Regions from separate parts of the Homo sapiens genome. Here regions 1, 2, 3, 5, 6 and 7 are each reported to be linked to region 4. The links are microRNA targets in miRTarBase. Many come from high-throughput screens and were not tested one by one. Region 4 holds a microRNA gene; each other region holds the end of a gene's coding sequence.

What was found. Region 4 holds the annotated microRNA hsa-miR-769-5p (UGAGACCUCUGGGUUCUGAGCU, at 1,896-1,917, shown strand). A microRNA usually pairs through its seed, bases 2 to 8, with sites in the 3' UTR of a target mRNA and lowers its output. Matches are read on the target gene's strand: a 7mer-m8 pairs with bases 2 to 8, a 7mer-A1 pairs with bases 2 to 7 and ends in A, and an 8mer does both.
Region 1: miRTarBase lists TCEA3 as a target of hsa-miR-769-5p. The part of its 3' UTR that is shown has no 7-base or 8-base seed match.
Region 2: miRTarBase lists SH3RF2 as a target of hsa-miR-769-5p. The part of its 3' UTR that is shown has no 7-base or 8-base seed match.
Region 3: miRTarBase lists MCCC2 as a target of hsa-miR-769-5p. Seed matches in the 3' UTR shown: 7mer-A1 at 1,561-1,567.
Region 5: the mRNA of NBPF15 is a reported target of hsa-miR-769-5p. Seed matches in the 3' UTR shown: 7mer-A1 at 1,657-1,663.
Region 6: the mRNA of CXCL5 is a reported target of hsa-miR-769-5p. Seed matches in the 3' UTR shown: 7mer-m8 at 3,640-3,646.
Region 7: the mRNA of APOC3 is a reported target of hsa-miR-769-5p. The part of its 3' UTR that is shown has no 7-base or 8-base seed match.

What each region holds. Positions count from the first base shown.
Region 1 is chr1:23,377,885-23,381,950 of GRCh38, reverse strand. TCEA3 (transcription elongation factor A3) reads left to right here. Exons shown (of 11, transcript NM_003196.3): 11 at 477-1,042. The coding sequence ends at 485. Among named protein-coding and RNA genes, the nearest start is that of ZNF436, 10 kb to the right of the region's middle. RefSeq lists an enhancer at 3,697-3,766.
Region 2 is chr5:146,062,396-146,066,461 of GRCh38, reverse strand. It overlaps SH3RF2 (SH3 domain containing ring finger 2), which reads right to left. Exons shown (of 10, transcript NM_152550.4): 10 at 3,170-4,036. The coding sequence ends at 3,761. The region is part of intron 1 of LOC107986458 (a long non-coding RNA gene); the gene reads left to right. Among named protein-coding and RNA genes, the nearest start is that of PLAC8L1, 41 kb to the left of the region's middle.
Region 3 is chr5:71,656,081-71,660,146 of GRCh38, forward strand. It overlaps MCCC2 (methylcrotonyl-CoA carboxylase subunit 2), which reads left to right. Exons shown (of 17, transcript NM_022132.5): 17 at 663-2,626. The coding sequence ends at 780. Among named protein-coding and RNA genes, the nearest start is that of CARTPT, 61 kb to the right of the region's middle.
Region 4 is chr19:46,017,066-46,021,131 of GRCh38, forward strand. MIR769 (microRNA 769) reads left to right here and starts at 1,867; the gene lies at 1,867-1,984. It overlaps CCDC61 (coiled-coil domain containing 61), which reads left to right. Exons shown (of 14, transcript NM_001267723.2): 11 at 1-4; 12 at 182-239; 13 at 1,013-1,085; 14 at 1,225-1,551. The coding sequence ends at 1,322. It overlaps PGLYRP1 (peptidoglycan recognition protein 1), which reads right to left. Exons shown (of 3, transcript NM_005091.3): 2 at 2,461-2,582; 3 at 2,088-2,354. The coding sequence ends at 2,173.
Region 5 is chr1:144,419,219-144,423,284 of GRCh38, reverse strand. It overlaps NBPF15 (NBPF member 15), which reads left to right. Exons shown (of 22, transcript NM_001385408.1): 22 at 29-1,895. The coding sequence ends at 272. TRN-GTT3-1 (tRNA-Asn (anticodon GTT) 3-1) reads right to left here and starts at 4,018; the gene lies at 3,945-4,018. RefSeq lists a silencer at 3,910-3,969.
Region 6 is chr4:73,993,932-73,997,996 of GRCh38, forward strand. CXCL5 (C-X-C motif chemokine ligand 5) reads right to left here. Exons shown (of 4, transcript NM_002994.5): 4 at 1,711-3,724. The coding sequence ends at 3,706. Among named protein-coding and RNA genes, the nearest start is that of CXCL5, 2.7 kb to the right of the region's middle.
Region 7 is chr11:116,832,651-116,836,711 of GRCh38, forward strand. It overlaps APOC3 (apolipoprotein C3), which reads left to right. Exons shown (of 4, transcript NM_000040.3): 4 at 114-422. The coding sequence ends at 234. It overlaps APOA1 (apolipoprotein A1), which reads right to left. Exons shown (of 4, transcript NM_000039.3): 4 at 3,101-3,761. The coding sequence ends at 3,158. It also overlaps APOA1-AS. Among named protein-coding and RNA genes, the nearest start is that of APOA1, 2.9 kb to the right of the region's middle.

The DNA.
Region 1 (4,066 bases), not on the chromosome of region 4:
TAGCTCTTGTGATTTTGTTACTGTTAGAGAAAGGACATTCTGAATGCTTTAAATCCAGCTCCTCTTCCTTGACTCTTACTAGTTGGAGGGACAGGATCCACTAGAGGTAACAACTACAGACTTCTGAACACATTTTCAGTTGGTCTCCGTTGCCATGTGGGAGACCAAAAGTCTAACCAAGTGATTAGTAGCCATCCCAGTGATGTTCTTGACCATAAATTGAGAGCTCAGCACATTCCTGGCACCGAATTGCCATTCATTTATTACCTGATATCATTCTCACATTCACAAGCTTTATGAGCTCATTTTACAGGTGAGTGATTTGTTCAAGATCACACAGCTAATAATGGCAGAGCTGGGCTTTGGACTCTGGTCTGTGTGGCTCCAGACACCACCTTCTTTTTCATATTCCCCCACAGCCTCCTTGGAGGATGCCGAGAAACCTTTCAAATTTTGTTGCCTTTCTGGTTTTGTAGTTCTGCTGATGGAACAGCCAGCCATGAACAAGGTGAGGAAGAAGAAAGAGGAAGCGCTGAATTATCTGAACTGGAGAAGCAATAAAAATTAAAGTGAAGGAAAATACTGAACTCTGTCTGAGTGGGATGGTATGAGTTAGAGGAAGAATTCTCTTGCAAATTAATAATCGGTCATTAGAAACAATTGGTTAATGGGGGAGCCTAATTGGAGAATGATGCTGAGAATTTGTATTGATGAACCTCTTTTAGAAACTGCAGAGGGCTGGGCACGGTGGTTTATGGCTGTAATCTGCAAACTCTGGGAGGCTGAGGTGGGAGAATCGCTTAACCCCAGAAGTTTGAGTCCAGCCCAGGCAACACAGCAAGACCCCATCTCTATAAAAAGAAAAAATAAAGAAACTGCAGCGCCTTAGACCTGAGGTGTCATATCTTTGACAGTGGGCTGGCAGACGTTTGCTTTGAGTTCCTTCTCTCCCATCTGGATCTCCCAGCCTTTTCCAAATTGAAAAATGCCAGATCAACACAAACCTTACCCCACCCCCACCTCCGAGTCACACGTGCAGAACTGTTGATACACCATTTGGCTTCAGCAGATATTACTTCCATACTACGTATTAGGTTGCTGCAAAAGTAATTGTGGTTTTTGCAGTTACTTTTGCAGTGGCCTAATAGAAATATTTCTTCCCTACTCTTTCCTCATCTCTTCCCAAACTCTCTGCTATTCCCTGTTCACAGCTGGCTGTGGGGGCCTTTGAGGACTCCAGATCATATCCCTCTAGGCAGGGAACAGATCCTCTTGAGCTGGGCTTTCTGAGTGGGCTTTCTTGAGTGGGCTTTCTGAAGATTACAGCAGCACTCTGACTTCCATGGCCCTTTGAAAGTCCTGAGCCTCAGAACCTGCCCAGGCCCTAGCAATGTGTCCCTCACAGCTCCATCTGTGACCTGAGCTTCAGAACACATCTGCAGAGCACAGAGACCTTGCCGTGCTTCTCCCATGATAATTATTGGCTTGCTTTTTTTGTTTGTTTGTTTTGTTTTGTTTTGTTTTTTTAGAGGCTGGAATGCAGTGGTGTGATCTTGGCTCACTGCAATTTCCACCTCCCAGGTTCAAGCAATTCTCCTGCCTCAGCCTCCTAAGTAGCTGGGACTACAGGCATAAGCCACCAAACCCGGCTAATTTTTTGTATTTTTAGTAGAGACGGGTTTTCGCCCTGTTGGCCAGGCTAGTCTCAAATTCCTGGGCTCAAGTGATCCACCCTCCTCGGCCTCCCAGAGTGCTGGGATTATAGGTGTGAGCCACTGCACCTGGCCTCGGCTTGCTTTTGATGCTGACAGGAACTTTCAGCAAAGCTGGAAACTTCTAGAAAAGCCTTGGGGAAGCTGTTGGGGCAACTATAACCCAAGTTCCTCATATACCCTGGATATCATTTACTCTAGAATTGGTTACTGTCTTCTTCCTTCCATCCATAAGTGCCTTCTCCTGTAGATGAAGCCCGGAAATAAACTAGGTACAGGAGTCTTCCACCTTCTTTGACTTTTATTTATTTTTATTTATTTATTTATTTTTGAGACAGGGTCTCTCTCTGTCACCCAGACTGGAGTGCAGCGGTGCAATCTTGGCTCACCGCAACCTCTGCCTCCCAGGCTCAAGTGATCCTCCTGCCTCAGCCTCTTGAGTAGCTGGGATTACAGGCACGCACAACTACCACCTGGCTAGTTTTTGTATTTTTATTAGAGACAGGGTTTCACCATGTTGGCCAGGCTAGTCTTGAATTCCTGACCTCAAATGATCCGCCCACTTTGGCCTCCCAAAGTGCTGGGATTACAAGCATAAGCCACTGTGCCCGGCCCCATCTTTGACTTTTTTTTTTTTTTTCTGAGACAGAGTTTCACTCTTGTTGCCCAGGGTGGAGTGAAATGGCACGATTTTGGCTCACTGCAACCTCCACCTCCTGAGTTCAAGAGATTCTCCTGCCTCAGCCTCCTGAGTAGCTGGGATTACAGGTGCCCACCACCACACCCGGCTAATTTTTTTTGTATTTTTAGTAGAAATGGGGTTTCACCATGTCGGCCAGGCTGGTCTCGAACTCCTGATCTCAGGTGATCCACCCACCTTGGCCTCCCAAAATGCTGGGATTGCAGGCGTGAGCCACCGCGCCTGGCCTGTCTCTGACTTTTAAACAGTTAGATTTGGGGTGAATCCCTTTCTTGGAAAGATCGAAAATCCTCTCACAGATGATACAACACAAAGAGCTCATAAATGGCAGAGCCAGGACAGAAACCCAGGTCTTCTGCTTCCTGTCATTGTGCTATAAGAGATCCAGAGCTATACACAGCGCTCAGCCCTTACCTTCCAGGAAGTCACAGCCTGGCAGGGAAAGAAACCATAGGCACAGATTTCCACACCAGACGGGATGCGATAAATGCCACATACATCTGAGGGACCAACATTATCCACAGACGTGCAGGGGGATGTTGCTGAGAAACCCAGATGTTTCTTAAACTTTAATATAGGTGAGAATTCACTGGGCATTGTGCTGAAATGCAGATTCCAATTCAATGGGTCTGGGGTGGGCCTTGAGATTGTTCAATTCTTTCTTTCTTTTTTTCTTTTTCTTTTTTTTTTTTTTTAAGACAGGGTCTCACTCTGTTGCCCAGACTGGAGTGCAGTAATGCCATCATGGCTCACTGCAGACTTGACCTTCTAGGCTCAGGCGATCCTTCCACCTCAGCTGCTGGAGTAGCTGAGACTATAGGCATGCACCACCACGCCTGGCTAATTTTTTATTTTTTATAGAGATGGGGTCTCCCTATGTAGTCGAGGCTGGTCTCAAACTCCTGGGCTCAAGCAATCCTCCTGCCTCAGCCTCCCAAAGCGCTGGGATTATAGGCATGAGCCACCGCACCCAGCTGATTTTTCATTTCTAACCCCAATGCAGCTGGTCCACAGACCACACTTTGAGTAGGAAGGCCTTAGATGTCCAGATTTTTCTCTGTATTATGTAATCCTCCATCCAAATGTCTAGAAACCAAAAGCAGAACAAAAAGCAACCACTGTCAATTTAATAAGGCCAATAAAGGTTACTTTCGGGTGAGTTTTTTGTTTTGTTTGGTTTTGTTTTGAGACAGAGTCTTGCTCTGTCGCCCAGGCTGGCGCAATCTCGGCTCACTGCAACCTCCACCTCCCGGGTTCAAGACATTCTCCTGCCTCAGCCTCCCAAGTACTAGAACCCCAGTACTGGAACCACCACACCCGGCTAATTTTTGTGCTTTTAATAGAGATGGGGTTTCACCATGTTGGCCAGGCTGGTCTCAAACTCCTGACCTCAGGTGATCCGCCCGTCTCAGCCTCCCAAAGTGCTAGGATTACAGGTGTGAACCACCACGCCTGGCCTTGAGTGAGGTTTTTTTTTTTGAGACAGAGTCTTGCACTGTCGCCCAGGCTGGAGTACAGCGGTGTGATCTCGGCTCACTGTAACCTCCACCTCCCGGGTTCAAGCAATTCTCCTGCCTCAGCCTCCTGGGTAGTTGAGATTACAGGCACCTGCCACCACGCCTGGTTAATTTTTTTTTTTTTTTGTATTTTTGTA
Region 2 (4,066 bases), not on the chromosome of region 4:
GCCAGCACTGTTTAAGTCACTTTGTATCATTATCTCAGATAATCCTCATAATAGCCCATTGAGGTTGGCACTACACTGTATTATTCCTATGTAAGAAAACGAGGCTCTGAGAGATTAAGTAACTGGCCTGACATCCCATGGCCAGAAAGTGGTAAATGAAGACCTGAACTGTATTTGTGCGCAGCCGAGCGTTCTAGGCTCTTTCGCATTTGCAGCCAAAAATGCACTCTGCTGCCTCCTGGCAGTCCAGAGTCAGCATCCTGAAGTCAAGGATGGGTTTTTGGTTCATGGAGCAAGTCCCAAGTTGGGCTCTGAAGTCAGACAGTTTGAGACTGTGTCCTTGCTCTGCCATCATCTGTGGTTAACTTTCAAGCTTCAGTTTCCTTGGCTCTGAAATGGGGACAATCTACCTGCCTTATAGGGATATGGTGGAAATTACATGAGGGGATGTGTTTATCATCTTCCTTGCTGTGTCTAGCACACAGTAAATATTAAAAACATGTTGGGGCTGGGTGTGGTGGCTCACGCCTGTAATCCCAGCACTTGGGATGCCAAGGCATGAGGAGGCCAAGCCGAGGAGTTTGAGGCTAGCCTGGGCAACACAGTGAGACTTCATCTCTACAAAAAATAAAACAATAAATTTACAAAGCATGTTGGTGGAATGAATGAGTTAAAGCTGCCAGTGAAGCCAACTTTTACTTGGAAAAAACATCCTTTGTCCCTTTCAAACCCTCTTAAAACTCCACAAAGATGGGATTTTCTTTGGGAGAGGGTGAGTTTGATGCTGCACATGGGTGAAGAGACTGGAGGGAGTGGAGGTGGCAAGTCTTGGAGTTGTTTGCATCTCTCAGAGAGGTTATCCCAAAGAGATAATAAATAGATGGTGGGAGAAGAATATTTCATTTCATTTGGAAGGCATGGACATCTCCATTCCATCTAAGCACCCTGCTTGTCAGCCACAAAACTTAAAAATTAACTGGATACATTGCCACTGAGGGATAGACTAAATATTTGGTCGGCCAGTCATGCCATATCTGTGCCACTCTGAGTGTAGAGTAGACTGCTAAACATTGCTAAACTCATTGAGAGTGCTTTTTGGGTAAAGATGAGGTATAGGTACTTATATTTTGACAAATCACACAATGCCTCCCTGTCCTTGGGACTTTATCTCATTTCTCCATCTGGATTATTATATTTAGTTCAATGAGGCATGGATTTGGGCATGTTGATTTTGTGGACCTAATGGGTCAATATCTCATGTTTGTTTGGGTCCACAAACATCAGATATTGACCCAAAGTTTGTGAGATGTGGACCCAAACGTGATTGAGATAGCTAGAACAACGTGCTGTCATGTTGGCTCTACCAGCCCCAAAGGTCTGACACAATGGCAGTATTTTATGGGAGGAGTATGGTTTTGTTTTGTTTTATTAAGGTCTGGAAAAAGTCTGTGGACAATTCTGTTTGCCGAGTGTGTGAGTGGGTGTGTAAAAGATACATGTTTTGAATCCCAGGACTTTCAAGAACTATCTAGGGGAAAGGTCTAATTAGACATGCCCCTTCCTCCCTCCCTCCCTGCATCTTTTTCTTTTTCTTTCTCTTTCTTTCTTTCTTTCTTTCTTTCTTTCTTTCTTTCTTTCTTTCTTTCTTTCTTTCCTTCCTTCCTTCCTTCCTTCCTTCCTTCCTTTCCTTCCTTCCTTCCTTCCTTCCTTCCTTCCTTCCTTCCTTCCTTCCTTTCTTTCTTTCTTTCTTTCTTTCTTTCTTTCTTTCTTTCTTTCTTTCTTTCTTTCTTTCTTTCTCTTTCTCTCTCTCTCTTTCTTTCTCTCTCTCTCTCCTCTCTCTCTCTCCCTCTCTCTCTCTCTCTCTCTCTCTCTCTCCCCCTTCCTTCCTTCCCTCCTTCCTTTCTTTTTCTTTCTTTCTATGGCACCCAGCCTTAGTAGCAAATGTTATTTCTGCGTTAAAGTGCCCACATTGATGGGCATGCAATAAATGTTAAATCACAACAATTAAGTTTAATGAGAATTAATGGGTTGTCTCACAGCATTGCCTTGGCTTCCTGGGATGCCTCCTCTACCCTGATTACAAGGCTCTCCCTGGCTGGTCCTGCTCACGTCAGTTCCATCTTAGTGGGGTCATCTAATTTTGCCCCATTCTTCATCGCAGGCTCTGTCCTTCTTTCCTCACCCTGTCAGGGAATGTAAGGTTGCCCCACCCCTTGTCTCCTTTAGCCTCTTCCTGTGCTTTCCCTCAATCCTCTTTCACTCTTACTCTTATGCCTACTTTCTTTCCTCCACATTTTCTTTAACCCCTCCTCTTTCTCCTTCTCCTCTCCCCTGTTTTCTCCTCCAGCCTTCTTTGTCCTACCCTTTTTATAGCAGCTTTCCCCTAGGAAGCACTCCCACCCCAGCCTCGGGCTGCCATGTTCGCACTGGTGTTGTTGCCTTGTGAGTGAAATAGCTCATCTGCCCCAAGTGAGAAGAAAGCAGGGAAAGTCAGGAATATTGCAATGCAAACAATATATATCCAAATATAGATCCTAACCCCAACCCCATATAAAGTTGTTTTTTAGCATGTTGTGCTTTCTTTTTTTCTTTTTTCTTTTTTTAGACAGAATCTCACTCTGTCACCCAGGCTGGAGTGCAGTGGTGCAATCTTGGTTCACTGTAATCTCCGCCTCCCGGGTTCAAGCTATTTTCATGCCTCGGCCTCAAGAGTAGCTGGGATTACAGGTGTGCGCCATCATGCCTGGCTAATTTTTGTATTTTTAGTAGAGATGGGGTTTGATCATGTTGGCCAGGCTGGTCTCAAACTCCTGACCTCAAGTGGTCTGCCCACCTCGGCCTACCAAAGTGCCAGGATTATAGGCATGAGCCACTGCACCTGGCCCACGTTGTGCTTTCTTGAAGTCAGACTATATATCTAAACCCTAACCCCATATAAGATTGTTTGTAAGCACGCTGTGTTTTCTTGAAGTCAGACTGTAGAGCCAGGATGAATTAATTGTCCATAATGCCATACATGGCCCTATCCACAGCCACATGCTTTCTGCTTATCTATTGCATAGGATTATATGTGGGAAAATGGATCGAGAAGCTTAAAGTATGATAATCCTTTGATATTTGGTACTCAGTGATCTCTCTGACCTTCTTAAGTGGAGCATACTCAGGAAGCTGGCTCCTTCTAGTTTTATTGGGTTCTCAGAATGTTCAAAGTATCCACCTCACACCCCGCGCAGAAATCCTCCCTTTGCAGCCAGGATTATGACTTTACAGAGGGAAAAAGATATGGCAGCTACTAGTGGCCAGTGTACAGGCCCCAGAAGATGGCAGAAGTTGTTCTAATGCTTGTTGAGGATATTGTAAGGTCAAAGAAGCAACGCCAACAATCCCACCGTTGTCACACCCCTGCTGCAGCCCCCTTTAGGACACCATAGAAATTCTACACAGTAACACGGGGATGACAAGAGGCCACATACTCCATGCTGGGGCATAAAGTGGGCACGACAATTTTTCACTCCTTGGTCTGAGTAAGCGAGCTTTGTGGCATCAAATCATTATGTTTGTATGTTTGGAAGGCCACGCCATCTATCCTCCCACCCAGGGCAGGAATTTCTGCTCCCACTTTTGCTTTCCTGGAGGTGAAATAGGAAGAACAAGGACCCATGCTCAAGTCCCCAAAGAATGGCAGGATGCCCTCAGTGGAGGCAGACTGTATTTAAATGCAATTCACCTCTTTGGGGTCTAGGAAAAGCCACCCGTAGGTTCATTTGCTGGGAAACACGGTCTGCGTGCCTGAGGCAGTGGACACCAGGGTTGTGGCCTTGCCAAGAGCTGACTTTCTCCGGAGGTCTGTCTGCTGTCCGGAGTGGCAGCCACTTCGGTGGGCAAATAGGACGGTCATCTCTGGGCCCAAGGACGCTGCTTCAGGCTGGGACGCCTTGAGGGTGGCTGGCTGTTCAGGCTTTCCGGAGGTGGGATGGGAGGTGTAATGTTTGGTGGGAGGAGGGCTGTAATTCTGAAATCTCACGGTTTTGACTTGCTGCAAGAGAAAGGAGAGGAAATGGACACA
Region 3 (4,066 bases), not on the chromosome of region 4:
AGCGCACTCCTGTAATACCAGCTGCTAGGGAGGCTGAGGCAGGAGAATTGCTTGAACCCAGAGGGCGGAGATTGCAGTGAACTGAGATCGTGCCACTGCACTGCACTCCAGCCTGGGTGACAGAGCGAGACTCCATCTCAAAAATAATAATAATAATAAATAAGATAAAATGTACTGAAGCCTATTCAATAATTTTCATAGTTTCTTAAGAGTTTGGATGGGGGTTGGGGAATATACATTTTCCAGTAAAGTTTGAGGTTATTACCTGGGTATATGTGGTTCTGCATATTAATGACAGAATACACCAACTTGGCTTATATATTTGTGTGGGAAGAAAAGGAATAGGAAAATTTTTCCTGAAATAAGTAAACGTATTGTCAAATTAGGGGTTACTTTGAGATCTCTTATAAAAGTAGTTCCTTAAGCCTTAAGCCTGACATGACATTCTGTGGTGGCCTGGGATGAAGGTCATATCATTTTTTTCCACGTTTTCCCCCTCTGTCTTGAACGTAGTTTCTGTTGTGAGATTATGGTACATGGATGCTAATCAGTAGATCCATATATTACCTGAAGGAAAACTTCCTTGGCATTTCTGCACATGGAGAGTGTATAAATGGTAGTTTGGTGGTAAATTCATAACTCTTTTTTTGTTCTTTTGTCAGGGTATGGGATGATGGGATCATTGATCCAGCAGACACCAGACTGGTCTTGGGTCTCAGTTTTAGTGCAGCCCTCAACGCACCAATAGAGAAGACTGACTTCGGTATCTTCAGGATGTAACTGGAATAAAGGATGTTTTCTGTTGGACATGTACTGAAAATTAACACATGTAGTAGCCTTAAAATTTTAGACTTCTCGAACATGAGGCTGTTACAGTAATTTTTTTAACACTGTGCATTGTACTTTTCTACCTTAAAAAAATCAGTGAGGATATTTATTTAATGAACATCAATTCCTTTTAAATTTTCTTAGAGAAATTTCTCTGTGGCTCAGTTTTACCACCCATAAAGCGGAGACAGTAATTTACGGTTATCCTTTCTGACCCACAAAGTATGAAAAGTTCTGTAATCTGTAAACTCAGTTCTGTAATCTGTATTATTGAGATGATTAATATAAAGTTGTATTTTCACTGAAATGATTGTTTTGCTGGTTATGCTTGGTGATATTTTAGCGGGCTTATTTTTGAAAGGCATCTGTTACTTCAGTGGCATAAAGTGCCCTCACACTGCTGTGCAGCCATCACCACCATTCATCTCCAGAATTTGTTCTCAGTCCCAAACTGAAACTATACCATTCAAACAACAGCGCTCCCCATTTCCCCCTCCCCCGAGCCCATGACATCTCCTTATTATTATTTTTTTTTTGAGACAGGGTGTTTCTCTGTTGCCCAGGCTGGAGTGCGGTGGTGTGATCTCGGCTCACTGCAGCTTCCACCTCCCGGGTTCAAGCGATTCTTGTGCCTCAGCCTCCCAAGCAGCTGGGACTATAGGCACGCACCACCACACCCAGCTAAGTTCTGTATTTTTAGCAGAGACGGGATTTCACTAGGTTGCCCAGGCTGGTCTCAAACTACTGACCTCAAGTGATCCACCCGCCTCGGCCTCCCAAAGTGCTGGGATTACAGGTGTGAGCCACCGCGCCTGACCACATCTCCTTATTCTTAAATGTATGTGTTTCTCATGGTTTGATTTATTCTTGCTGGGCCATTTCAGCCCCTGTCATGGCTTCACTCGCCATCTAAATGCAGATGATTACTGCCTTGACGGTTCTTAACCCAGCTCTCCCCTGAGCTGCAGGCCTGCATATCCAGTAGGTCTACTGGACATCTGTACTGGTTGTTGTGGAGGAACCTCTGGCTTGCTCATTAAGTCCTACTGATTTTCACTATCCCCTGAATTTCCCCACTTATTTTTGTCTTTCACTATCGCAGGCCTTAGAAGAGGTCTACCTGCCTCCAGTCTTACCTAGTCCAGTCTACCCCCTGGAGTTAGAATGGCCATCCTGAAGTGAAAAGTAATGTCAGATTACTCCCTTCAGTGATTTCTTGTAGAAGTGCCAATCCCTGAATGCCACCAAGATCTTAATCTTCACATCTTTAATCTTATCTCTTTGACTCCTCTTTACACCGGAGAACGGCTCCAGCTGTTCTAGCTCTCTTTCAGTTCTTTGAACCTTCCCACCTTAGGGTCTATAAGGTTCCCTCTGCCCAAATTGTTCTACTCTCCCTTCTTCTTCAACACATCCTTCAGTTTAAGCACTTGCTTCTCTCAGTTTAAACTCCACTTCCTTAGGGATGTCTCTGTGACCTCCCTGTGCTGGATTAGCTTCCCTACTCTATGCTCTTGTAAAACACTATCTACTTCCTTTGTCATAAACTCATCATTTTCCTATAAACATTAATATTGTCCTCCTGCTAGAATGTAAGCTCCGTGAGAGCAAGGATCCTCCTGTTTACCCTGTACCTCCAATGTCTGGCACTTGTAGGTGCTCAAATATTCGTTGAATGAATGAAAAATCCATATTGTAATTGATGTCCTCTGGCCACATAGTTTTAAAATTAGGTGATTGATTATATGACCGAATAGAACTATCAAATGTTTTCCTAATAAAGTCAATATTTCAAACATTTGTGTGTGATATTTAGTATTTTAAACATTTGTGTGTGATGTTCAATGTGTACCAGGAAGTCAATTTAGTTTTTGTGGGGAGAATATAGATAGATGATCAAATTCAGTGGTAGGTTACATTTTCAGAAGCAATACATTAAGTATATTAAAATAGTAATATTAAAATTTTAATGAAAATGCACATCTATGTCAAAATGATTTTCTATATAAAGACTAGGTAATATTCCTTTGGTAGGAACCATTAACAAGTCAAGGATTCATGGATATTTTAGGACTGCTTTTGCTTTTCTGGGAAGAAACTGTCCATCAATAAAACCACATTTAAGTGAATTGGATTTTTTAAAACTTATTTTTCTAGAGGCAGGGTCTTGCTATGTTGCCCAGGCTGGACTCGAACTCCTAGGCTCAAGCAATCCTCCTGCTTCAGCCTCCCAAGTAGCTGGGACTACAAGCTTGCACCACTACGCCTTGCTCTATTTTGTATATTTTACCCAACAATAAACATTTATAATTGTCTTACCAAAATAGGTAATACTTTTTAAACATTTTGACTATCATAAATATGAATTCCAGCAAGGATAATATGAGCTACTTGGAATTTGAAGAAATATACAAGTTAGTCTCTAAATTTGCCCCTGTTGGTACTTAAAGAATGAAAAAGACAAGATTACTTCTATTTTTCAGTTTATAAGAAAAGTATTTTCAAATCGAATTTGTTAAAAAAAAAAAAACACTTCTGCACCAGCAGAAGGCACTATTGAGTGTTTGAGTGACACCATCATTTGCCAACATGCTTATGTGTATGTCTCTCCAGAGAGAGGCCATATGTTTCCTTCACAGGGATAAATCAAAGCAGGTTTTGGAATGATACATTAATAAGATTATTTTTGAGAGGCCACATTAGTTCTAAAATGCATTGAGTTTGGTTTTATGGAAGATTAAATCTCCACTAAGAGTCTTGGCGATTTTTTTTTTCTTAGTGATCTTCTAATGATTGGTTCTGAAGTTTCATATATGGAAAAATGGCAAGAAGATGAACTAGGTTATCATAGCCTAGTGTCATTCATAACATTTCCCTTAAAATGTTACAATTAAGTACAATTAATATTTAATGATGACATAGATTTTAATCATTTTCGACAAAACGTTTTGTGCCTTTCCACTAAACGCTTAAAAATAGTTTGTTTCAGCGGGGCACCCTGGCTTAACACCTGTAATCCCAGCACTTTAGGAGGGTGAGGCAGGAGGATTGCTTGAGCCCAGTGGTTGGAGAACAGCCTGGGCAACATAGCAAGACCCTGTCTCTACTTAATAAATAAATAAATAGGTAAATAAATAAATAGTGCTTTTATTTTATGTGCTTCAAATTCTCTTGTATCTGGAATCAGGATCCTGAGGACTAAGTTTTTCTTAGGGATGAATGAAATTTCTATGCCCCT
Region 4 (4,066 bases):
GAGGGTAAAACTTGAACTTGGGAAAAGGATCGCCTCCAAAGGGTTTCTGGGGAGACTAGAAACAGTCTTTTGCAGGGAAATTGGGTGATGGAGCCTGGGGGCCTTGAAACCACAAAGGTCGGGGAGGTGGGAAGTACCAGAGCCTCCCCACCACTGGTCCTTGGTTACTCCTTTTTCTCAGGGGTCACCGCCGCCGTGGGAAGCCTCCCAGCCCAACGCCCTGGAGTGGGTCCAATATGGTGAGTAGAAGGGGCAACATAAACCACTGGAACACAGCTGCCCCCATTTCCTGTGATTCCTTCCTGGGGATCAGGTGCAGAGGCGACTCTGAATGCCTTTGGCAATAGGGCTTTTTTAAGAGTGCGTCTCGCTCTTTCAGGCTGGGGTGCAGTGGGGCAATTGTAGCTCACGGCAGCTTTCAACTCCTGGACTCAAGAGACCCTCCCACCTCGGCCTATGGAGTAGCTGGGACTAGGCTTTTTTGGGGGGGCAGGGTGGGGTTGAGACAGGATAAGGGGGTGGTATTGTCTCTTTATGTTGCCCAGGCTGGTCTGGAACTCCTGGCCTCAAGCCATCCTCAGCCTCCTACAGCGCTGGAGTTACAGGCTGGGCCAGCGCACCTGGCCTGGGAACAGCACGTTTTGAGAGCATTAGATTGGAGAAGGAATAATGAGGGGCACGTGATGCTCTTTAGGGCTTTGGCTTCTGACTGTCAGGTCTTGAAACCTGTCTCCTCCTCTTCCCAGCTGTATGGTTCAAGGCAGTTCTTTAGCCTCTCTGTACCTTAGTTTTTGTTTATCAGTTAACCAGGGTTGGTAATGGCATCACCTCACATGTGAGGTGAGGGCTCTGTGAGGACATTAGGAGGTTATTTTGCAGATAATGAATGGCCAGTAGGTGTCAGGCCTTATTTTTCCCCAAGGTCCTTAGGCTCAGGATTTCCAGTGGGATTTAGGGGGACAGAAATAGAGGGACGGTGGGTGACCCCCTTTCCTACCTTCCCCATCACCAGAAGTCTCCCCCCGTGGAACGCAGCCACCATCAGAAATCTCTGGCCAACTCCGGGGGCTGGGTCCCCATCAAAGGTGAGCCTGGGACTCCACATCCCCTCTCCCAGCCCCAGGACCCGTTGGAATGGTAGTGCGGGCAGTGGTATATTGGGCCCAGGAACTCCCTGGGGCTTCAGGCCCCTCACAGCCCCCATACCCACACCTGCTCTCACAGAGTACAGCTCGGAGCACCAGGCGGCTGACATGGCCGAAATAGACGCACGCCTGAAGGCCTTGCAGGAGTACATGAACCGACTGGACATGCGGTCATAACGTGGAGAAGGGGTACTACCCCTCCATCCCCCACCCACTTGCTGGGTATGGTGTGGGGGGTGGGGCCAGGGTGGCCTCCAGCCCTGCCCAGTCCCTGCCCTGGCCCCGTCCCTCCTGCTGCCCCTGGGGTCTCAGGTGTGTGAGGCCCTGACCCTGCCCTCTCCCCAGGCAGTGCATGCTGGGAGGGAGGATGTGTGCATTTTGTAAATAAACATATTTGCCCTGGGGACCCCTCAGCTTATGACTAAAGGGTGAGGGTGGAGTGGGGAGAAATGTGGAGGAAGAGAAATTGGGGGGTATAATTGGGACCTGTGTGTCTGTGCCTCGGAGGCAGATTGGGACTCAGGCCTAGGAAAAGCTTGTACACTCTCTAAACAGTGCAAGGGCAGACCTGGGAGGAGTAGTGAGCAGCCCGTCCCTAAAGGAGTCCAAGCAAAGTTTCTGCGCAGGATGCCTTTGGCTGTGTGGTGGGAAGGAGGTGTCTTGCAGCGTGGTTCACTGCCCAGGAGGACCCCCAGGACCCACTGTTGGTGACATCCCGGCCGCCTTGGTGCTGATTCCTGGGCTCTGACCTGAGACCTCTGGGTTCTGAGCTGTGATGTTGCTCTCGAGCTGGGATCTCCGGGGTCTTGGTTCAGGGCCGGGGCCTCTGGGTTCCAAGCACCAGTGAGGAGAGTGCTGGGAGGGGAAGGGGTGGGAGGGCTTTGGTCTTGTGGGAGGGAGAGAAGGAGGGGAGGTGTGTGGTGGGACCTGCTGAGGAACACATTTTGAGCTACATCTTTATTGGAGAAGGAGACAGTGGGGTTTTTGGCCATGGGAGGGGAGGAATGGGGTGCGGATCAGCAGGGCCTCAGGGGGAGCGGTAGTGTGGCCAATTCTGGATGAGGTGGTAGAGCTGGTTGCCTGGAGAGAGTGTACGCTGCACATCCCGGTGTCCTTTGAGCACATAGTTGGACCTCAGGGCTCCCTGAGCCACACCGCAGGCCAGTAGACCCTGGGCTGCCCGGATGGCCTGGGGTGTGGGCACCCGATCTGGAGGAGGCAGAGGTAGGAGTCAGGCAGGGGCTTCCCCGAAGGGGAAGTGATAGCGTAGGGCCCCGTGTCAGCCCCCATCCCAACTGGCTGGACAGTCACTCACCCATGTAGTTGCCCATGAAGCTGATGCCAATGGACATGGGGTTCCATAAGTGACCTGAGTGGGCACCCGTGAAGTTCCAGCCACGGCCCTCGTATACGAGCCCGTCTTCTCCAATCAGGAAGCTGCATGGGGAGGTGGGGGGGCTTGATGAGTGAGGGAGGGTTTCCCGAGGAGGACTCCTCCTCCTTCCTCCACTCACCCTGCCTCCGTTACTGCCGTGGTGCACACAACTTCCCCAGCATCCTTCTCACCCGTTAATTTCCCACGATAGTAACAATGACTGTGGTCATTTATTGGGCCCCTGCCATGTGCCAAGCACAGCTCTGCATACACCTTTTTCCATCCTCACAGCAACCCTGTGAGTCACTATCACCCCCGTTTTATATAGACAGAATCAGAGCGGTAGAATCACCTGCCCCGGGGTCACACAGCCTGTCTGGGGCACAGCTGGGGTTTTTAACCAGGCCTCCATGGTCCCCACCCATGTGATCTTGTGCGTTGCTCTCTCCTGCCTCCCTAGAGGATTTGTGGAAGTCCTGTTTTACTGAATCCTTGCAGGACAGCCCTCTGAGGCAGAGACTTTTTTTTTTTTTTTTTTTTAAGACGGGGTTTCACTCTTGTTGCTCAGGCTGGAGTGCAGTGGCGTGATCTCAGCTCACCGCAACCTCTGCCTCCTGGGTTCAAGTGATTCTCGTGCCTCAGCCTCCTGAGTACCTGGGATTACAAGCATGAGCCACCACACCCGGCTAATTTTTGTATTATTAGTAGAGATGGGGTTTCACCATGTTGGCCAGGCTGGTCTCGAACTCCCGACCTCAGGTGATCTGCCCGCCTTTGGCCTCCCAAAGTGCTGGGATTACAAGCATGAGTCACCGTGCCCAGCCAAGGCAGGGACTCTTATCATCCTCATCTTAAGCAGAGAGAGCAGAGACTCAGAAAGCGACATAATTTGTACAAGCTACTCAGAGCCCCCTGCCTCTCAGAACTCTGCCTTTGCCCCAGCTTGCTTCCTGCCCTCGGGGTCCACTGGGGGACAGGATCACAGACTCAAAGTTGGGGTCGTAACCAGATACCGACCCTGGAGCCCCAGCACCTGCCTCTTTGAGGTTCCCAAGCCTGGCAGCAGATCCTTAAGGCTGATTCATTCAGCACATCTGATTGAGCGTGTCTGACTTGGCAAATGGGAATGAACTAGAAGATCAGTGCCTTGGAGCTGCAGTATGTGCCAACTCAGCCCCCGCGCTCACAGTGTCATTAATGACGCACAGAATGTCGGAACTTCCGAATCTTGAGTCCCGAATCTGCTGCTTAGGAAGCCAGCTCCCAGAATCTGGCCCCAGTGATGCTGGCTGCTGGGACTGGCTGGTTATGGCCCTGCTGGTGATGCTGGCTGCTGGGACTGGCTGGTTATGGCCCTGCCATATTCCCGGAGCCTGGCATGATGGTGCTGGGGTCGGGGGTGGTTGGTTCTCCCTGGTCATTTGTTGCATGAATGCATCTCATTGAAACCTCAGCCACCATCGCCAAGCGGGTACAGTCAGAAGCCCCATTTACAGGTGAAGAAACGAGGCTCAGAGAGAGAAGGTGACGTGACATGGAAAGGGGA
Region 5 (4,066 bases), not on the chromosome of region 4:
GCTTCTTTAGTTTTGTCTCCTTTTCCAGGCTCTACGGCGTGCTGATGGAAGTGGAAGAGCCTGAAGTCTTACAGGACTCACTGGATAGATGTTATTCGACTCCGTCAATGTACTTTGAACAACCTGACTCATTCCAGCACTACAGAAGTGTGTTTTACTCATTTGAGGAAGAGCATATCAGCTTCGCCCTTTACGTGGACAATAGGTTTTTTACTTTGACGGTGACAAGTCTCCACCTGGTGTTCCAGATGGGAGTCATATTCCCACAATAAGCAGCTCTTACTAAGCCGAGAGATGTCATTCCTGCAGGCAGGACCTATAGGCACGAGAAGATTTGAATGAAAGTACAGTTCCATTTGGAAGCCCAGACATAGGATGGGTCAGTGAGCATGGCTCTATTCCTATTCTCAAACCATGCCATTGGCAACCTGTGCTCAATCTGAAGACAATGGACCCATGTTAGGTGTGACACGTTCACATAACTGTGCAGAACATGCCGGGAGTGATCAGTCAGACATTTTAATTTGAACCACGTATCTCTGGGTAGCTACAAAATTCCTCAGGGATTTCATTTTGCAGGCATGTCTCTGAGCTTCTATACCTGCTCAAGGTCATTGTCATCTTTGTGTTTAGCTCATCCAAAGGTGTTACCCTGGTTTCAATGAACCTAACCTCATTCTTTGTGTCTTCAGTGTTGGCTTGTTTTAGCTGATCCATCTGTAACACAGGAGGGATCCTTGGCTGAGGATTGTATTTCAGAACCACCAACTGCTCTTGACAATTGTTAACCCGCTAGGCTCCTTTGGTTAGAGAAGCCACAGTCCTTCAGCCTCCAATTGGTGTCAGTACTTAGGAAGACCACAGCTAGATGGACAAACAGCATTGGGAGGCCTTAGCCCTGCTCCTCTCAATTCCATCCTGTAGAGAACAGGAGTCAGGAGCCGCTGGCAGGAGACAGCATGTCACCCAGGACTCTGCCGGTGCAGAATATGAACAATGCCATGTTCTTGCAGAAAACACTTAGCCTGAGTTTCATAGGAGGTAATCACCAGACAACTGCAGAATGTAGAACACTGAGCAGGACAACTGACCTGTCTCCTTCACATAGTCCATATCACCACAAATCACACAACAAAAAGGAGAAGAGATATTTTGGGTTCAAAAAAAGTAAAAAGATAATGTAGCTGCATTTCTTTAGTTATTTTGAACCCCAAATATTTCCTCATCTTTTTGTTGTTGTCATGGATGGTGGTGACATGGACTTGTTTATAGAGGACAGGTCAGCTGTCTGGCTCAATGATCTACATTCTGAAGTTGTCTGAAAATGTCTTCATGATTAAATTCAGCCTAAACATTTTGCCGGGAACACTGCAGAGACAATGCTGTGAGTTTCCAACCTCAGCCCATCTGCGGGCAGAGAAGGTCTAGTTTGTCCATCACCATTATGATATCAGGACTGGTTACTTGGTTAAGGAGGGGTCTAGGAGATCTGTCCCTTTTAGAGACACCTTACTTATAATGAAGTACTTGGGAAAGCGGTTTTCAAGAGTATAAATATCCTGTATTCTAATGATCATCCTCTAAACATTTTATCATTTATTAATCCTCCCTGCCTGTGTCTATTATTATATTCATATCTCTACACTGCAAATTTTGGGTCTCAATTTTTACTGTGCCTTTGTTTTTACTAGTGTCTGCTGTTGCAAAAAGAAGAAAACATTCTCTGCCTGAGTTTTAATTTTTGTCCAAAGTTAATTTTAATCTATACAATTAAAACCTTTTGCCTATCACTCTGGACTTCTGGATTGTTTTTTACATTCAGTGTTATAATATTTGATTATGCTGATTGGTTTTGGTGGGTACTGATGCGAATTAATAAAAACATTTCATTTCCATGTTTATTTTCTAATCTCTTCCACATTGTAGGCTATGTTTACCATACGTAGCAGAATGTATTTACATTTCTTGGTTCTAGTCATTTGTATTCTTCGTGAGTGTGAGTGTGTGTGTGTCTGTGTGTCTGCGTGTGTGTCTGTGTGTGCCTTTGGCATTTAGGAAGGGTTGTATAGCTCATGTTAAATATTGCACTAAAAATGTTTTTGATGGTTTTCCTCCCTTTGAACTAGACACACTTCTAATATTTGGTTTATAGTTTTAAATTATAACTTTCAGCATCAAATATTTCCATACAACAGTCAATTACATGATGTGTTTTCTTTTTCCTACCTCCTTTACCTGCCCCTTCTCATAATAGTATTTGAACCTAAACATATACCGTTGACATTCTGTGATTATCATCTTGCCCCTACCTTGGTTTTGGTTTTTGGTGCAGTTCCAGGCTCTTGGTGTCTTTGTTTGGGACACCAAGAGCCTGGTACTGCACGGCACCAGCTGGTAAGAATTAGGCTTTTTTGGCCGGGCGCGGTGGCTTATGCCTGTAATCCCAGCACTTTGCGAGGCCAAGGCGGGCGGATCACGAGGTCAGGAAATCGAGACCATCCTGGCTAACACGGTAAAACCCCATCTCTACTAAAAATAAAAAAAATTAGCCGGGCGTGGTGGCGGGCGCCTGTAGTCCCAGCTACTCGGGAGGCTGAGGCAGGAGAATGGCCTGAACCCGGGAGGCGGAGCTTGCAGTGAGCCGAGATCGCGCCACTGCACTCCAGCCTGGGGGACAGAGAGAGACTCCGTCTCAAAAAAAAAAAAAAAAGGCTTTTTTTTTCCCTAAGGGTTAACAACAAACCAGCCCTTTGGAAAGACTTGCTTCACCACTGTTACCAACCAACGGCCTGATGCTTTCCCTCAGTTTTGTGATTTTGACAAAACAAGCAAGCAGCATTCCCTCCTGATAAGAGACCACCGACCTAGGAATGATTCTGGCCAGACTAGAGAGGATGCACAGTGAGGGTTTTCATGTCCTCTGCTTCAGCTTTTGATGTCAGAGGGCCACAAACTCCACTCTCAGATGATTGCTAATGCCACCATTTTATGAACATGGACCCCATGGAGAGGCACGAAGCTCAATTGCACTTCTGCACATTTTTCCTCCTATAAATATTGCTATTGGAATATTATTTGGTACGGCTCCCGTGAAAGATACATTTGCAGAATGTACTCAAATTAGAAGCATCATGTAAAGCCTATAATGTAGCGATAGTGCATCAACTTCCCTACACTATAGAAATATCTGCGGTGTAGACATTTCCACAATGACCAGATATGTGTACAACAAAGGTGGCTGCAGCATTCTTTGTAATCCTAAAACAATGAAACCTACCTCATCTCAAAAACTTTATTTTTTTATTTTTATTTTTTTTTTGAGATGGAGTCTCGCTCTGTTGCCCAGGCGGGAGTGTAGTGGTGCAGCCTCCACTGGTGCAGCCTCCACTGCAGCCTCCACCTCCCAGGTTCAAATGATTCTCCTGCCTCAGAATCCCAAGTACCTGGGATTACAGGCACATGCCACCATGCCTGGCTAACAAAAACATTTTGAAAAGGGTTAAATAAATCATGCACAAACTGAGGAAAAATACTCTTCAAAAATGATGGAGAGGATCACTATGATGATGAATGATTCCACTGGTCACATTATTGATAGAGCAATCAGTAAATCCAGGCACATCCTCGGGATATTACTGACCTCCTATTATTAACATATGAAAAAATGGAGGCATGTAAATTACTCGTTTAAGCGTATAACGGACTGAATTAGAATTTTATCACACCAGAAGTGGGTTCCTAGGTCTCTGTTTCAGGATTCCTGAGTTACACACATATAAACCCAGGATTTCAGGAGATACCCGGTTAAGAATCCGGTCGGGGAGGTGGTCTGGCCCTTGACATGGATAAGTCACAAATTAGTGGCTTAGGACTCCAGGAAGATAAAATCTTCCCCATTTATCTAGTGATTGACAATGCATGAATACTTTAAAAGCTCAAACAAGCGTCCCTGGGTGGGCTCGAACCACCAACCTTTCGGTTAACAGCCGAATGCGCTAACCGATTGCGCCACAGAGACAGGTACTGTCAGTTCTACTGGGCGCTATAGGAAGGGCGCACGCACGAA
Region 6 (4,065 bases), not on the chromosome of region 4:
CTTCTTTCTTTCCTTTTCTTGTGTTTCATAAAAGAGCAATTTCATATAAATACCTATTCTTAGGTATTTATATAGTAAATTTGAGGGACAAGGGAAGTTGAAGTACTGATCAAGATTGGGATGAGACAGAACCTCATTTGTCATTTAGATAGGGAAATGTTAAGTATAACCTAAGAATATGTATTTAAATGAAATTGCTCTTTTAATTTTAGAGTGACAAGGGGACTTGTTTAGCCAAAATCACTTGCTTTTTGAATACCTAGTATGTGCTAGGCACTGTCCTAGGAACTGAGATGAAGTTGATAAGCATTGTCCCCGCCCTCATGAGGCTTACATGAAGCTAGAACAGAGAGACCTTAAACGGATGACAATAAACACACAGGCTCAATAAACTCTACAGTAACTTCGGTGAGAAAACTTCATGAAGGAAAAGTACAGAATGCTATGAGAGGGTATAAAAGGGTCCTCCTCAAAGGTAGGAGTAAGGGTTGGAGAGGTTTCCTCAAGAAAGTAAAAGGCAAGCTATTCCAGAAGGAAGGATGGTAGCTACCCTGGTAAAAGTGAGGGGAGGTATTATAGATTGAGAGGATTGTGCATGCCAAACTCCTTGTTGGACTACTGCTAGACAAGGAGAAAAGAGGGTAAACAAGTTATAATTTAATTAAAACCGAGCAGGGTGGCTCATGCCTGTAATCCCAACACTTTGGAGGCTGAGGCGGGCTGATGACCTGAGATCAGGATTTCAAGACCACCCTGGCCAACATGGTGAAATCCCATCTCTACAAAAATACAAAAACTAGCTGGGCATGCTGGTAGGTGCCTGTACTCCCAGGTACTCGGGAGGCTGAGGCGGGAGAGTCGCTTGAAACTGGGAGGCAGAGGTTGCAGTGAGCTGAGGTCATGTCATTGGAGTCCAGCCTGGGCAACAGAGCAAGACTCGGTCTCAAAAAAAAAAAAAATGACATCTACCATGAACCAGGTTATTGAATTTAGAACAGTATCTGACAGCCTGAAGATCAGGATAACTTGTTAATTCATTAATTCATGCATTAATGCTACATTGGGGATGCAGCGGTAGATATAATATGGTTAATGTTCTGGGAGAGCTAGAGTGGATGAAGAAACCTATAAACAAATAAGAGCAATGCAGTTTTTTTGTTGTAATTCAGATAATGAGATGTCATGAGAATATCAAATCGGAAGCCATGAGCTCTGCCAAGGAGCTGGTATTACTTGAGCTGAGTTCTTAAGGATGAATAAGCCTCTTCTTATATGCAGGTAGTGGCCCTAGCAAATCCAAAGTCATGGGCCTAGGAAAGAACATGCCCAGTTAGGGAACTGAACACCTGACTATAGTGAATTTGAGGGACAAGGGAAGTTAAAGTGCTGATCAGGAATGGGATGAGACAGAAAGAAGGTCATCTGTCATGCTTAGAAACCTTTATTTTATGTTTAGGAAACAATTTAGATAGGGAAGAATTTAGATAGGGAAATATTTGTGTTTTCTAAAGACCCCAGAAGCCATTGGTGCTGTGAAGGGATAACTAGAAGGGAACTGAACTTGGAGAAAGGTTGAGCCAAGGAAATGGTATTGGGGAATGAGGGCCTTCTCTGCCAGTCAGAGAGGAGCAGAGTTAGTGTTTTAAATTACATAGAATTAAAGATAAGTAAAATGTATTGTAACAGTATAGGAAGGAGAAACAATATGAGTGAAGTTTAGAAATCTTTTAATGTTTATTCAAAGGACAAAATAAAGACTATGAACCAATGAGACACATAGTAAAAAAGTACAATTTTAATATAGTGAATGTAATATATATGTAATTACTCATAACAAAATGGTCAAAACCTTTAAAAGATACACAATAGGCATCTAAAAAGCTCAGCAATGCTAAATATATAATATATATTATATATAAATATATAATATATAAATACATACGTTTTTACCAAGAAATGTTTTATTTTTCTTGCAGTAGCTTTGTTAATTGCACAAAATTATGTTTTGTTTTTGCCATTTAAATATTATCACAGAATCCTATTCTGAAAGACAAATGTTCATTAAAAACAAAGCAAAAATAGAAATTCACAACCATTAATTACCTAGGTTTGTCATTTAAAGGTTTAAAGAAAAAAAGGGAGGAGCTTTCCTACAAGCCTTTTCACAAGTGTCACATTTTCTCTTTAAAAGGGAAGGATTTCCAAACAAAGGTGAAATAGCTTAAACAGAAATATTTGTAAAAATAAACTTTACAGCATTATCAAGGATATTAAGACAACACTGACTAACCGGTTTCATTACCGCATCTTCCCCCACCCCCAACCCCAGTGTGTCCCACCAGGACTAGAACAGGCTTTACATTCAGACAGAAATGCTTCAAAATCCCAGTGAAATGAACTGTGCTAAAAACCCGACAGGCATCTTCCCTGCCCTCCCCGCTCCCGCTCGTCTTCTGCAATCCTCTAACCCAGGTTCTACTCTGTGAAAGGGGCCAAAGCTGTGAGTGGGGAGGGAACTTGCCCCAGCGTGGCCACCTTATATATAATTATATATTCTACCATAAATGCTGGCCTTCTTCAAATTATGATTTTGGAAAATCTAACCCATACAGAGGGATAAAAAATTGACATCCCTTGGACAACTTCTCCTTGTTTTTTTTTGTTTTGTTTTGTTTTTAACATTCCAAGCTCTCTCTGGTCCCCTATCCAAGGAGAAATGCTAGGGCCTCGAGGATGTCGCTATATATTTTTATAACTAAATGATAAATTTATATTCAAATTGTTTGAATACGTTTCCAAAACTTTCAGAGTACAAGTCATTGTTAAGTTTGCCTTTACTTTAAAAACTAAAAGAATACATTTCTATATAAACTAGCAGTCAGGAATTTGCCTGTTTTCTAGCTTCTTCATCTATCTAAAATATATATTTAGCTACCAGAATTATGGTACTCCTAATAAAATACTTAATAAATAGCATATAAAATCAAAGTTTAAAAGTAAATGATGGCAGTTTGCCATACTAAAAAGATAAAGAATGTCTAAAATTATAGGAAGATAAGATATTAGCCCTCATAGAACTTAAACTTTTAGAAATTCTGAATAAGGAAATATATTCTACATAGATAAGGTGTGAAACACTCAGCTTTCTAAAGTGAAATAATTAAATAGTATCCCACAATCAAGAGTAAGGAAATTCTCTAACATATTCCCCAAGAAACATTAAAATATTTCCTATTTCTTATAAAAGTGAAGATAACAGTGTATTTCCATCAACAGAATTCTTATGAAACATCATTTCCACATTAAATCCACAGCCTTCTCAGTTAATATCTTAAGGAATATTTCTTGGAAATATAATAGTCACCTACAATTCAAGACACTTTGAAAGATTAACAGCCAGTGATTCCTGGCTCACACTATAGTCAATTGCCAAAACTTCAATAGCATAGCAGATAAAATAACAGCAAATAGCAGAGGTACTATGCTAAACACTTCATTAGCTGAGCTGAAAGCTTAAGCGGCAAACATAGGTTTTCCTCACACTCTTCAAAGTGAGGAATCCAGGAAGAAAGCTAACTACTGGAAAAACAAATAAACAAACAACAACAAAATCTTTCCTTCTTGTCTTCCCTGGGTTCAGAGACCTCCAGAAAACTTCTCTGCTGAAGACTGGGAAACTTTTCCATGCGTGCTCATTTCTCTTAATCAGTTTTCCTTGTTTCCACTGTTGAGAAAAATGTTATATTAGTTTAACCATTTTTCACACTCCTTTCTACTCCACCCTTGTCAAAACTCAGCGTTTATGATGTTTGGTAAAAAAGGAGAATACAAAAATCAATAAAAGCAATGGGTAAACAAAAAACATAACTTAGTGACAAGCTGTGTGTAATTGCTCAAGTAATTACATGTAAGATTGGTATATTTTCCCAGGACAATCCAGAAAAACTTTCCCAATTCAACAACCTTTTAATTCTAAACATGAAAAGTGTTACTTAAATCGTACAGAGAATAAAGACCTTGTGAAGTCTATGGTCTCCCTAGATCAGATTTAGAAACCACAAAGAT
Region 7 (4,061 bases), not on the chromosome of region 4:
AGGGTGGTGTGGTCCTGACTGGTGTCGTCCAGTGGGGACATGGGTGTGGGTCCCATGGTTGCCTACAGAGGAGTTCTCATGCCCTGCTCTGTTGCTTCCCCTGACTGATTTAGGGGCTGGGTGACCGATGGCTTCAGTTCCCTGAAAGACTACTGGAGCACCGTTAAGGACAAGTTCTCTGAGTTCTGGGATTTGGACCCTGAGGTCAGACCAACTTCAGCCGTGGCTGCCTGAGACCTCAATACCCCAAGTCCACCTGCCTATCCATCCTGCGAGCTCCTTGGGTCCTGCAATCTCCAGGGCTGCCCCTGTAGGTTGCTTAAAAGGGACAGTATTCTCAGTGCTCTCCTACCCCACCTCATGCCTGGCCCCCCTCCAGGCATGCTGGCCTCCCAATAAAGCTGGACAAGAAGCTGCTATGAGTGGGCCGTCGCAAGTGTGCCATCTGTGTCTGGGCATGGGAAAGGGCCGAGGCTGTTCTGTGGGTGGGCACTGGACAGACTCCAGGTCAGGCAGGCATGGAGGCCAGCGCTCTATCCACCTTCTGGTAGCTGGGCAGTCTCTGGGCCTCAGTTTCTTCATCTCTAAGGTAGGAATCACCCTCCGTACCCTGCCTTCCTTGACAGCTTTGTGCGGAAGGTCAAACAGGACAATAAGTTTGCTGATACTTTGATAAACTGTTAGGTGCTGCACAACATGACTTGAGTGTGTGCCCCATGCCAGCCACTATGCCTGGCACTTAAGTTGTCATCAGAGTTGAGACTGTGTGTGTTTACTCAAAACTGTGGAGCTGACCTCCCCTATCCAGGCCCCCTAGCCCTCTTAGGCGCACGTGAAGGGAGGAGGCCGGATGGGCTAGAGGTTGGAGTAAGATGCAACGAGGCACTATTCTTGGCTCCACCACTTGATATCAGCCTCAGTTTCTTACATGTAAAGTGGATACAACCGTACCCCCTCCACCGTAGGTTTGCCGTGAGATTGAAATGAGAGAGCGTTCGAACCGTTTGGCACAGCACCTGCACGTAAAGATGCTTGATCAATGTTGTCATGATTACAGTTGAGCTGACTGGGCCCTTGGGACCCGGACTGGAGTGGTGGGGGGCAGTGTCCTGGGACCAAAAAGAAGCACAAGGTCTCCCAATAGAGGCTGCTTCCTTTGTGTCCCCACCACCCGAAAGATGTCAGGTCAGAGAGCCCGAGAGCTGCAGATGGCTTGAGTAGGGCTCCACTCTTCAGATCAAAAAACTGTGGCCCGGAGAGGCGAAGGCACTTGGCCAGCATCACAGAGCCAGCACGTGGCAGGGCCAGACCTTGAGCCCAGGTCAGCTGCGTGTATTCTGCTCAGTTGGTGCAGAAAACAGTTTTGTCACTCCTATGTCAGGTGTTAGGGACTCCTTTACAGATCTCAGTGGCATCAGTACATCCAGCCCCACCTGGAGACTGCTTTCTCTCTGAAAATTCCCCAGGGCTTCTCTCTGGGCTGAGAGATCTCAGCACCCGTATCTAGAAAATGTTCCCACCCAGACCTGGCTGGATGACTGCTGTTGTAGCTCTGGAAGGTTAGGAACTAAAAAGCCCACTCCTTTACCTAGGGTAGCTAAGATACACTGGAGATGGGGACATGGGGATGGGGCCGATTATCCAGGGGCCTGCATGAGGGGGCAAAAGGCCCTGCAGAGAGAGGGTAGGGAAGGCACTGCCCAGATCTGTGAAGCCATGTGCGTGCACGCGGGGACATTCAGACATGAGTGCAAGGAGGGACCGTGAGCAGGGAGGTCATGTGAGAATACACAGGCATGCCTGCACACCCATGTGAACTTGAGTGCCAGGCCACACACTCTTTTTTTTTTTTTTTTTTTTTTAGCTGGAGTCTTGCTCCGTCGCCCAGGCTGGAGTGCAGTGGCATGATTTCGGCTCACTGTGACCTCTGCCTCCCAGGTTCAAGCGATTCTCCTGCCTCAGCCTTCCTAGTAGCTGGGATTACGGGTGCAAGCCACCATGCCCAGCTGATTTTTTTTGTATTTTTAGTAGAGACAGGGTTTCACCATATTGGCCAGGCTGGTCTCAAACTCCTGGCCTGAAGTGATACGCCCACCTCAGCCTCCCAAAGTGCTGGGATTACAGGCTTGAGCCACCGCACCCGACCCGCGCACTCTTTTCAATAATCATGGATGGCCAGGGGTGCAGGGTCTAAAAAGCGCGGCCTAGCCCATCCTGCTGTTCACTGGGCAAGCGACGTCACAGGTCCAGGCTTCAGTGTCCTCATCCATGCTCTGCGTCTGATGGCAATCTAGCCAGGATGTGGGGAAGGGAGGATGCAGTGAGAGCACAGATATGAGAGCATCTTGGAAATAAAAATGTACCTGCAAGAGGTGGTGGTGAATTTTCTTACTCAGGCCAGCTTCTGCCAGGGCTGGCAGAAAGAGGGGGTGGCATGGCATGGAGCCGCAGGGGGTGGAGGACTGGCTTCCACTGCTGTGCCTGAGGAAGCCGCGGCTGTTTCTGGGCGGGATGGGAGTAGTGGGAGGGGGATACTGGCCTTGTGAGAAGAAAAGGGAAGTGTCTGTTTGAGAGGTTTTTGAATTAGTAAAGGAGGACAGGCGCAAACTCCAAGCGCTTCACTTGCACCCGGGACCAAACCCCAATCCCAGTGGCTGGCTCCCTGAGGCCGCCCCGCTCCGTCCCGCCCCGCTGACAGCGGCTGGGCTGGAGAAGGCTCTATACGGACACACCTCTGGGGACGGGGAACCCACTGCTCCCAGCTAAAGCAACCCTGTTTCCTGGCCCGCCTCAGACAGGGCTGCAGGCCTTGTTTGAGCCCCTTTCAGGGCACCTGGCCTTGGATTGTCTGTGGCTTTGCCTGGTCCGCTGTGACTTCCTTTCTACTTGAGCCTTGCTAAGGCAGACTCTACTCCCTCACTCGTAAGCAGCCAGGCGTCCAGCAGGTCCTCCAACGTCGATCTTGGCCCTAAGACGTCCAGTCTGGGCACGGAGTTGTTGAGATCCGGCAGGAAGTCCCTGCTCCAGGGCCAAAGGCCCCACCCGGGCTCCCCCGGATGTCCCCGCACCCCCCTCTATTCTCCCAAAAGAAAGAAGCTGCTTCCCACTTTGGAAACGTTTATTCTGAGCACCGGGAAGGGGGGCGGCGGCGGGCGCCTCACTGGGTGTTGAGCTTCTTAGTGTACTCCTCGAGAGCGCTCAGGAAGCTGACCTTGAAGCTCTCCAGCACGGGCAGCAGGCCTTGGCGGAGGTCCTCGAGCGCGGGCTTGGCCTTCTCGCTGAGCGTGCTCAGATGCTCGGTGGCCTTGGCGTGGTACTCGGCCAGTCTGGCGCCGCCGTTCTCCTTGAGAGCCTCAAGGCGCGCGGCCAAGCGCTGGCGCAGCTCGTCGCTGTAGGGGGCCAGATGCGTGCGCAGCGCGTCCACATGGGCGCGCGCGCGGTCGCGCATCTCCTCGCCCAGTGGGCTCAGCTTCTCTTGCAGCTCGTGCAGCTTCTGGCGCGCGCCCTCTTGGAGCTCTGCGCGCAGCGGCTCCACCTTCTGGCGGTAGAGCTCCATCTCCTCCTGCCACTTCTTCTGGAAGTCGTCCAGGTAGGGCTGCACCTTGGCCTTCACCTCCTCCAGATCCTTGCTCATCTCCTGCCTCAGGCCCTCTGTCTCCTTTTCCAGGTTATCCCAGAACTCCTGGGTCACAGGGCCGAGCTGTTCGCGCAGCTTGCTGAAGGTGGAGGTCACGCTGTCCCAGTTGTCAAGGAGCTTTAGGCTGGAGGGTGAGACAGAAGGGTTGAGGGCTGGCCTCCCAGCGCCCCAGCCTATCAGGGGTGAGCCCTGGGTGACACCTGTCCGCGGAGGTGCAGTGGCCTAGCATTTCCAGTACACTCTCAACCAACACCCCTGCCCCGCCAGGCCATGCCCCGTTGTGCAGCTGGACCGAGGCACAGAGAGGAGCTAAAAAGGAGACAGAGCTGGGACTAGTGCCCAGTTACGTTGGTCTCCAAAGTGGGCCCTTGAAGGACCTCGCTTCTATGCCTCCAGCGCATTCTCCTCTCCGAAGACAGCCCAC